Regions from separate parts of the Homo sapiens genome. Here region 1 is linked to region 2. Evidence: fine-mapped expression QTL. A gene starts in region 2. The other region holds a variant in brackets. All regions are shown on one strand. Distances are from middle to middle.

Region 1 (5,372 bases), 37 kb after region 2:
GGTCCCATAAGATTATAATACTGTATTTTTACTGTACCTTTTCTATGTTTAGGTATGTTTAGATACACAAATACCATGGTGTTGCCAACAGTATCCAATACAGTAACATGTTGTACAGGTTTGCAGCCTAGGAGCAACACGCCATACCACAAAGCCTAGGTGTGCGGTAGGCTATATAATCTAGGTTTATGTAAGTACACTCTATGGTGTTTGCACAATGATGAAATCGCCTAGTGATGCAATTCTCAGAACACATCCCCCATCGTTAAGCAATGCATGACTATAAAAGGATATCTAATCTTCCTTTTTTTTTTAGAGACAGGGTCTTGCTCTGTCACCCAGGCTGGAGTGCAGTGGCATGATCATAGCTCTCTGCAGCCTCAACCTCCTGGGCTCAAGTATTCCTTCCGCCTCAGCCTCCCAAGTAGCTAGGACAGGTGTACACCACCATGCCTGGCTGATTTTTTAAATTTTTATTTTGTGTAGAGAGGAGGCCATGCTTCGTTGCCCAGGGCTGGTCTCAAACTCCTGGGTTCAAGTGATCCTCCTGTCTCAGCCTCCCAAAGTGCTGGGATTCAGGTGTGAGCTATCGTGCCTGGCTACTCACTTTTAAAAGGGTAAAAAAGCTAAGGAAAGTTACAAAAGGGTCTTGCCCAAAGTCATATGGCCAAGCTGGTGTCTAACCAGGATCAAAATGCAGGTCTTCCAATCAGACCTGACACCTCAGTGACTGGTCCCAGTGTGCCCAAATACCCTGCTGCTGCCTCCCTTCCCACCATCTTATTCTCCTTTCCCTTTCTCACCCAGGCTTGCTGCTCTGACAGCCAGCACAGCTCCACTCCCCATGTCTGCACTGCATGTGCTCTTTGGAACAAGACTGGCTCTGCAGTGCTTGTACCATCCTCCCACAGGGAACATTATCCCAGAGGCTGGAATTTTACCCAGCTAAGGCATTAACTGTTTTGGTATGACTGGTGTTATTTCCTACTTAAGAACAAAACTCTTGACAATTAATGCATTAGGATTGATTTAGGGCCAGACTTGGTTTTCAATTCTCATTGAGTCCTTTTGTGTGATCTACATCTCAAGTTTCAGGATTAAAAACTCCAGAAGAGGCCAGGTGCAGTGGCTCACACCTATAGTCCCAGAACTTTGGGAGGCCGAGGGGGGCAAATCACTTGAGCTCAGGAGTTAGAGACCAGCCTGGCCAACATGGTGAAACCCCGTTTCTACTAAAAATACAAAAATTAGCCAGGCATGCTAGCGCACACCTGTAGTCTCAGTTATTCAGGAGGTTGAGGTGGGAGGATCACTTGAGCCCAGGAGGTGGAGGCTGCAGATGAGCTGTGATCACACCTGGGCACAGAGTGAGAGCCTGTCTCAAAAAACAAAAAGAACTCCAGAAGAGTCTTCATAGATCTTAACATAACATTCTATAATTAATGTTTTTGCTAAAACCACATGCAAAGCTGGGTTGGTTCAATCTCCTATGGTATAAAGTTTCTCTCTCCAGCCTTTTCCATCTCACAATGACCATACCTTCAAAGAGCCCACATCAGGAGACATCCTTAAAAGAAAAGAGCTTCTGGCCGGGTGTGGTGGCTCACGCCTGTAATCCCAGCACTTTGGGAGGCTGAGGCGGGCAGATCACGTGGTCAGGAGATTGAGAACATTCTGGCTAACACGGTGAAACCCCGTCTCTACTACAAATACAAAAAATTAGCCAGGCATGGTGGCGGGTGCCTGTAGTCCCAGCTACTTGGGAGGCTGAGGCAGTAGAATGGCATGAACCTGGGAGGTGGAGCTTGCAGTGAGCTGAGATCGCGCCACTGCACTCCAGCCTGGGCAACAGAGTGACACTCCATCTCGGAAAAAAAAGAAAAAAAAGAAAAGAGCTTCTTGAATTAAGACACATGATCAGGTGTTTTTCTCCTGGTAGTGGTTCCACCCTTAGAACTCCCAGGCTTTCTGGGTCTGCACTAGGTTCTCATACCCCTTGACAGTGCTGAAGGACGCTTTTTAAAAAGCCTGCCCTTCCTTTACCAAGCATAGGCTATAAACTGGCATTTTAGCTAACTGCTAGATGGGTTTCCAACTGCCTTACCCACTTCTGAAGGCTTAAAAAAATTCTTCAAAATTACAAAAATTCTTCAAATTTATGTAATTTTCGTCTCTTTAGGGTTCTCATAGGTTCTCAGAGGGAATGTTTATAATAACTGTTTGCATACAACTTATTTACCTTCTCCACATATATTTTGATTTAGGTCCTATTGTTTTCTCCATTATATTGATGATGAAACTGAGGTATAGAAAGGTTAACTACCAACTCAAGGTCACACAACTAGTGAGGTGGCAGGGCTCCAAAGTCTAGCTCCCATCTACCACGAGACATAGCCTCTGTATGAGGAAGAGCAGAGGAAAACCAGGATGAATTAGAATGTTCCCACGTGGCAGGCACGGAGTTCAGCACTTCACAACACCTGAACCTAACAAGTGCTCCAGGAGAAAAGTACTAGAATTCCTTTTTCTTTTTAATTAAGAACAGCCTGAGGCACAGAGAGTACAGGCTCTTGCCATGGCATGGGGCTAGACCCACAACTATGTCTGAAATGAGCTCAGATAGCAATAAATGGTCTATCAGTGTGTTAGGCTGTGGGATTTACTTTGATTCTAAGAGCCATGCCTCCATGACCCAAGGGATTCCACTAAGCTGGGCCAAAAGAAAGAGTGGCCCAGGCTTCATATGCTGTCAGGCTGTCTCCTCACCTGATCCCAGTTAGACTAGTTAGTCCTTGGCCTTGTTAGGATAATGGAATTTTAGTGTATGTAATACAATGTATACATACCAAGTGTTCCAGAAATGATGTCCATTTTTGGCATGACTCCATCCCGATCCCCAATCCCTCCGCCTCGAGCCCCATAAAGCCCCACTGCGTGGACCTCATCCACGAAGGTGATTGCTCCAAACTCATGGGCCACATCACACAGCTCTTCCAGTGGGCACAC[C/T]GCCCCTGAGGAAAGACCAGAGACTGCTCTGAAGAGCTTTTGCCGCTTCAGAAATTTCTGTTTTGGTTAGAGTCAGAACAACGTAAACTTCTATTCTAAGGTATCATTTTCAATATTGGAAAGAAAATGAACTTCCTCTAATTTCTAGGTTACCTGGGGTCCCAGAGCCTAGTAAAAGCCAGAATAGAAAATCCACTTTCACCCAAATCTATTAGAAAAAAGTCCACCAATTACAAATCTTGGCAGAATGCAATACTACACAGCAATAAAAAAAGAATGAGACCATGTCCTTTACAGCAATACGGATGGAGCTAGAGGCCATCCTAAGTGAATTAATACAGGAACGGAAAAACCAAATATCGCTCTCACTTATAAGTGGGAGCTAAACACTGAGAACACATGGACACAAAGAAGGGAACAACAGACACCAGGGACCGACTTGAGGGTGGAGGGTGGGAGGAGGGTGAGATCAAAAACTACCATTGGGTACTATGCTTACTACCTAGGTGATGAAATAATTGGTACACCAACACCCTGTGACACATAATTTACCCATATAATAAACCCGCACATGTACCCACTGAACCTAAAAGTTGGAAGAAGAAAAAAAAAAATCCTGGCAGAAAGGAAAAGAAAATTAAAAAACACAACAGGCCAGGCGCGGTGGCTCACGCCTGTAATCCCAGCACTTTGGGACGCCAAGGTGGGCGGATCACAAGGTCAGGAGATTGAGACCATCCTGACTAACACAGTGAAACCCCGTCTACTAAAAATACAAAAAGTTAGGCCAGGTGCGGTGGCTCACACCTGTAATTCCAGCTCTTTGGGAGGCTGAGGCGGGCAGATCACAAGGTCAGTAGATCGAGACCATCCTAGCTAACATGGTGAAACCCTGTCTCTACTAAAAATACAAAAAATTAGCTGGGCGTGGTGGCAGGCGCCTGTAGTCCCAGCTACTCAGGAGGCTGAGGCAGGAGAATGGCGTGAACCCAGGAAGTGGAGCTTGCAGTGAGCCGAGATCACGCCACTGCACTCCAGCCTGGGTGACAGAGGGAGACTCCGTCTCAAAAAAAAAAAAAAAAAAAATTAGCCAGGCGTGGTGGCAGGTGTCTGTAGTCCCAGCTACTCGGGAGGCTGAGGCAGGAGAATGACGTGAACCCGGGAGGCGGAGCTTGCAGTGAGTCGAGATCGCACCACTGCACTCCTGCCTGGGCAACAGAGCGAGGATCGGTCACAAAAAAAAAAAATTAAAAAACACAACAAAACACCATACTTTTAAAGAGTTCAGGCATAGTTTTTCATCTTAGGTTTCAGAGGAACCTCTATCCACACTTACCATCCATTGAATGGACAGTTTCAAATGCCACAATCTTGGGGACTGAGGGGTCAGATCTTTGCAGCAGTTCTCTGAGGTGGCTGACATCATTGTGGCGGAAGATGTACTTTGGCACTCGGCTGTTTCGAATCCCTTGGATCATGGAGGCATGGTTCCCAGAATCAGAGTAAATCTCACAGCCTAAGACAACAAAAATGCTATTTATTGCCATGTGCATCGAAGACAAATTATTTCCTAGAGAAAGACAACAGACTTTTCCTTGGAAATGATGCTTTGAAAATGCCTAGTAGGAAAAAGACACTGTGTGCCAGTTTCTTCCTGGCAAAATAACTAGTTAGTGCTTCCCTTGTGAGAAGGCCCAAAGGTGTAGAATAACCTTGTGGCAGGCCATTAATCTGCTCTTAAATCTGACTGCCTCACTCCAAACTCAATCAAGAGCTAACTAAATGATTAAGAGACTTCTCCAAAGGATCATCTTAGAATACAAAACATATTTGAGGCAATTAGCTCAAGGATGAGACGTTTCAAGTTTGAATTTTCACTGGTATCACGTTCTCCTGGAACCCATAATGTACAGTCAGCATTTCATGCTTGACCCCAGAACAAATGCCCAGATAGGATTATGATTTTCAATTGAGAGGTTCTGGTAAGGCTTCTTTGTTGCCAATATTCTTGTTATTACTAAGAAACCCAAAAAACTCGAAGGCACTCATGCCAGGCTTCCTTACCTGGCATCATCTTAGCCAGGGTGAAGAGGGTTGAGTCATTGGCCACAAAGCACGAGGAAAACAAGAGTGCGGCATCTTTCCCATGGAGGTCTGCCAGCTCCCGCTCTAAGTCCACATGGAATTTACTAGTTCCAGAAATATTTCTAGTACCACCTGCCCCAGCACCATGTTGTTTCAAAGTGTCCCTGTTTAAAAATACAAACAAAACCAGAAAATAAAGCTCATGGTTCTCAACACCATGTGAATTTTTTCCCCTTTCTAGGATCCAGGAGACTGAAACATGTTGATGTAGCAACTCTCTC
Region 2 (5,372 bases):
CCTTAAAGCCCTCCATGACTACCTAAGACCTGCAAGGGTGAAGGCTTAGCCCTTTAGCGGGGCCTTTGAGGTCCCTGCCCTCCCCGGCAGCCACTGTCCACACTCGACACATAACAAGTACACACACAATTCAGCCAGTCAATCCTTCCTACTATCCCTCCACTTCCAGCCACCTTTGCTTGTCCCCATTGCTGCTTATGCCCTCCCCATCCCACCCTTGCCCACCCTCCAAGGGGTGACTCACCTGCTATCCCCAGCATTGGCCATGTACAGCTTTCCCTGCAGGGACACAGCCACCAGGGCTGTGCAGCCGCCCATCTGGCCTGAGGCCTCCAGCTCCCGCCCGATCACCTCATCCTGGGGAAAACCGAGGCCACCTTAGCTGCTGCCTGTTCTGCCACCATACTACTTTGTCTCTCAATCCCCACCCTACCCTACAGTTCACTTCTACCAGCAGGCCTGACAGTCCCAGCCCAAAGTCCAGCCATACCTCCAAGATCCCTGCAGTCAGGAGATCTAGACAAGGGAAGTGCTACTCAAAATAGGAAGAGAAACCAGCCCCTGCACCAAGGACCAATAGGGTATTCAATTAGATGATGCAGGTAAAAGCAGTTAGCACACAGTAGGTGCTGGATAAATGAGAGGGGTTATGCTGATAGTGATGGCTGTTAGTAACAATCCAACCAACCCAATCTCATCCTCCCAATCCAAGGATCTGGTGTGATGACCATGGGTATACAGAGATGCCATTTCCTGAGATCCCCGGGGCAAAATCTCCACTTCTTCCCCAGCCAAAAGCCACACACTCACACATTCCTGAAAGGCACTCTCCAATGCCCCGATCACCAAGTCTTCTGCCCTGATGCCCTTTTCCTCCACAAACTGAGGGTCACTGGGGCAGATGCAGCGGCCATTGAGGTGCATGGGGGGCTGAGTGGCCACCAAGCCTTCCACCACGGCCTCCAGCTGCCGGCGCAAGCAGGAGTGCAGGGTGTTGGCAGCCAAGATGGCTGCTGCAGGACCGCCGTGCCCATCGAACAGTGCCCAGTAATGGCCTGTCAGGAACTGCACAGGAAGGGCTCAGTGTCAGCCTCTGCCTGACTTCCCCACTTGTCCCCTGACGCAACCTAACTAGGACCTGGGGCAGCAGGGTAAGAACCTCAGCCTGCAGGTCGTGGCCCCAGCCTGTCGGAGGGATTCCAGCCAAGAACTCAGACTGCACTCACCTCCTCTGGGCACAGGGTCAGCCACTCTTCTTCAGCCCCAAACTCACATCTCCGGATGCACAGCTTCCCACAGGCGGCTTGATCCTCATTGAATTCAGATTTCTCTGCATTGATAATCCTGAGGCCGGGAAATGGTAAGCGACCCTCCAGGGACACACCTATGTCCCCATGGGCACAGGGACCCAAGCCAGCACAGGGAGAAGACCCCTCCCTCTGGGGCAACAGCTCCCCAGTGCTGTCCCTAACACACACTTAGACAACCACGATGTAAGCTTCCTAACTTCACTGGCCTCATGGCTAAGGTAAAAGTCAGGGCCCAGCTCCTCTGGAGCCTACCTGGTGACCCAGGGCTAGACGGTAAGGGTAGGTTGCCATTCCTGCCCCTGTCCTGTCGCAGCCCAAAGCCCTGTCCCATACAGCGCAGGTCATACCCAGGGTGAGATGGTGGGGGTAGAGGGCGAGGGGAAATCTCCAAAGCCCCGAATGCTGGAACTCTACCGAGTCTCTGGGCCTCATCTTGGAAGCCCCTGGGCTGCAGGTCCTTCCCGACCTCCTGTCTTCTCTGAGGGGGAGGTCGGAATCCCAAGGAAAACGCTGGGTCGGGATGACCGGGAAGTTGTCAGGATTCGGAGGTGAGGGCAAGAAGGGGCTGTCCACAGGTGGGTGGGGACTGTCACTCAGCTCCTCCCGCTTTCTAGGCGGGCGCAGGACCCGAAGCGGGTTCAGGCCCGGGCCTGAGCTGGGGGTCGGGGAGGGGCACTCACTCGGCGTAGCCTGCATTCCAGGGTAGCGTGCGTCCTCGTGCGGGGCTGCGCACGGGCCGGGAGTCTGGGCGGCGCGAGGCGTCGGCCGCCCCGGGGCTGGAGCTGGAGCCGCGAAGGAAGCGGGGCCGTCGGTAGGGCACGGGGCTGGCATGCGGCCCAGGCGGCCGCGGCGCGGGGAGCGGCTCCCCAGGCAGGAAGCGGCGCCGGAACCAGCCGGCGGACATGGCGCGGCGGCAGGGGGCTGCCCGCGGAGCGCGGGGCGCTAGGGCTGGGCCGCCCGCGGGAGGAAGAAGCGGGCCGCGGGCGGAGCCGAGGGAGGGGTGCGCCGGCGGGAGGCGGGGCCGGGGGCGCGCAGACGGGAGGCGTCGCCCCCCAGCCCCGACCTCCGCCCGGGAGTGCGTGCGCGGCTGGTTCGCTGACTCCAGGGGTCAACGCTCGCGACCGCCTGAAGAAGCCCACGCCGGCATCAGCCCCATTTGACAAGCAGGAAAACCGAGGCCTAGAGAGGCGAAGTCGCCTGCCCAGCGTCCCACAGTAGCCAGGGAGGACTGTTCACCCACGCTTGCGGGGCACTGGTGGTTGAGAGGAAAAGTCCCCCACACTCCGCGGGGCCAGCGTCGCGCAGATCCTCGGACCTCCTCCTGCTGGGTGGGGACCTGACGCAAGGGGAAGATGGGGACAAAATGAGCTGGGAGGTGTCAGACCCCCACATTGAGTAAATGCCACCGAGCACAGGTTCCTTCAGGCGGCCTCCAATCCTCTCCACCCCGGCCTGCCACCCTCCACCCCAGACGGGCTTAGTGGGCACCTTGGCTTTCCCCGTCCTGAGAGGCTGCTGCCACCCTCGAGGACAGTCTTCCAAATGGCTGTCCCTGCATTCAAGATGTCTTCGCGGAATAGACAGCAGGATCCTTACTGGACTGTGAGTGAGTGACGGACAAGAGAAATCTGTGTGAGTGTAAAGGGGAATCCGTGGTCCCCCAAAGGCTCCAGCTGGTCCGAGTTCAGACCTGGGACGGAGGGAAGTGAAAGACGAGGAACCATCTTGCGGTCTCTCAACCACTGGCTAGCTGTCACCAGGCGGTCAGCCGCAGTGTCCCCTTCACATCTGCGAGTTAACAAAGCACTTTGTCACCCATTTGTCACTCAAGTCCAACTCCCTGTGCAAAAGTGTTACTTTGGCCGGAGGCAGTGGCTCACGCCTGTAATCCCAGTGCTTTGGGAGGCCGAGGCGGGCGGATCACTTGAGGTCAGGAGTTCGAGACCAGCCTGGCCAACATGGTGAAACCCCGTCTGTACTAAAAATTAGCCAAGCGTGGTGGTGTGCGCCTGTAATCCCAGTTACTCAGAAGGCTGGGGCACAAGAATCGGTTGAACCCAGGAGGCAGAAGTTGCAGTGAGCCGAGATGGAGCCACTGCACTCCAGCCAGGGCAACAGAGCGAGACTCAGTCTCAAAAAAAAGAGTGTTACATCATATGGACGATTCTGAGGCCCATGGAGGGGAAGTCTTGGACACCCAGGGCTGTACTATTTCCATTATGACAATGCAGCTGACTCAATCCTCGCCCCCAGGGCACTTCTCTTCCCCTTTCCTCCTCCAGGAAGCCAGGGCTTGCCAATTAAAAGCGGCTAAGGCTCCACAGCCCAGTGCCTGCATATGAGCTGTATGAGGAGTCCACCTTCACCTCCACTCCCTAGCCCAGGTAGACGCTCAGTAAGCCCTACTTCCTCCCAGCAGCTAGTCCTGCCCCAGTGGGAGTTCCTCGGGCCCAAGAAGGAAGGTTCTTAGGGCAGGGACCTGTGCCCAACACCCACTCCCTCCGATGACTCAGTCCCAGACCAGCCTGGGGGCTGATTGACTGAACCCACAGTGTCTGCTGGGGCCACACTGGGCACAGGAACGCAGTGCTAATGGAGACAAGCCAGGCCTCTGCCCACCAAGCCCCCTGCAGTGATGGTAGCAGTTCTGGTGGATGCTGCTTCATCCAGCTGGCAAGAGGATAGGGGCGATGTCAGAGAAAGTTTCCCAAAGGACCTCTGAGCTGTGAATTGTCACTGTGACAGAACAGAAAGGTACCAGGGTGGGGCAGGCCCAATTCAGTCTATGGGGCCACTTCCTCACCCTCACCAGTTGATGCCTCAGAGGATTTTAAAGTCTAAAATTGGACAAAACAAAGTGCATACACTCTATTCCCCAACCCACCCCTGGGTGGGGGAAAGCCTTGTCCTGAAGTATTTTCACAGAAGCTCTGGGCAACCAAATGTCATAGGCAGTCTGTTGCACAGCTTAGCCATTGTCTATTTTCAGAGCCATGTGGAACCACATGGCAATCCCATCCTCTCTGTTCCAAGGTGGCCTGAGTGTTCCTTCAGTGCTACCAGGCTCTTCTGGCTTCCTGGGCTCCTAAGCGCCTCACTCTTGCCTGGATCTTAAGCCTATGTCTCTTGGTTTACTCCCTCATTTTGCTGAAGTGCATCCTTCAACAACTTTCCAACAAAGGGTGACTGGGAGGTACTTTCCTGAGAGATGTTATTTATCTATCTTTTTCTGTGAATGGTCTGTTTGTATCCTTTGCCACACTTTCTACTGGGCCATTTGTCTTTTTCTTTTTCTTTTTTTTTTTTTTGATACAGAGTTTCGCTCTTGTTGCCCAGGCTGGAGTGCAATGGTGTGATCTCGGCTCCCCATGACCTCTGCCTCCTGGGCTTAAGTGATTCTCCTGCCTCAGCCTCCTGAGTAGCTGAGATTACAGGCATGTGCCACCACGCCTGGCTACCATTGGTCTTTTTCTTATTGACTTATGAGAGCTCTTTATATATTAGAGAAATCAGCTCTTTATTTTGAAATGAGTTACAAGTATGCTGTTTGTAACAAGTTACAGTTTGTTATTTGTGTTTTGGCTGTGATGGTGGCTTTTTCCATATAGACTTTATTTTTTATGCAAATGGATTATTGATCTTTTCATAAAGGAAAATAAAAATTTCAGGACCCCCAAATTTGTTATGCTAAAGGGAGAGTTAAGCTTGGAGACTGAGCCACACAACACTGGCATTCCTTTTTTTTTTTTTTTTTTTTTTTTTTTTTTTGAGATGGAGTCTTGCTCTGTCACCCAGGCTAGAGTGCACTGGCACAATCCCGGCTCACTGCAACCTCCGCCTCCCGAGTTCAAGCAATTCTCCTGCCTCAGCCTCCCCAGTAGCTGGGATTACAGGCACCCGCCACCATGCCCAGCTAATTTTTGTATTTTTAGTAGAGATGGGGTTTCGCCATATTGATCAGGCTGGTCTCGAACTCCAGACCTCAGGTGATCCACCCGCCTCGGCCTCCCAAAGTGCTGGGATTACAGGCGTGCTGGGATTACAGGCGTGCTAGGATTACAG

The links. PIP is the estimated chance that this variant, and not a neighbour inherited with it, causes the effect. A credible set is the group of variants that fine-mapping cannot tell apart.
Region 1: its variant is the best candidate, but not a certain one, in a credible set for the expression of PPM1M in whole blood (TOPMed, PIP 0.82).

The regions. Positions count from the first base shown.
Region 1 is chr3:52,205,722-52,211,093 of GRCh38, reverse strand. It overlaps ALAS1 (5'-aminolevulinate synthase 1), which reads right to left. Exons shown (of 12, transcript NM_000688.6): 7 at 5,071-5,255; 8 at 4,343-4,522; 9 at 2,847-3,011. Among named protein-coding and RNA genes, the nearest start is that of ALAS1, 10 kb to the right of the region's middle. RefSeq lists an enhancer at 67-361. The variant C/T (reference allele first, on the strand shown) is at 3,007.
Region 2 is chr3:52,242,667-52,248,038 of GRCh38, reverse strand. PPM1M (protein phosphatase, Mg2+/Mn2+ dependent 1M) reads right to left here and starts at 2,280. Exons shown (of 10, transcript NM_144641.4): 1 at 1,991-2,280; 2 at 1,227-1,344; 3 at 811-1,065; 4 at 245-357. The coding sequence starts at 2,214. RefSeq lists silencers at 1,937-1,996, 2,037-2,406.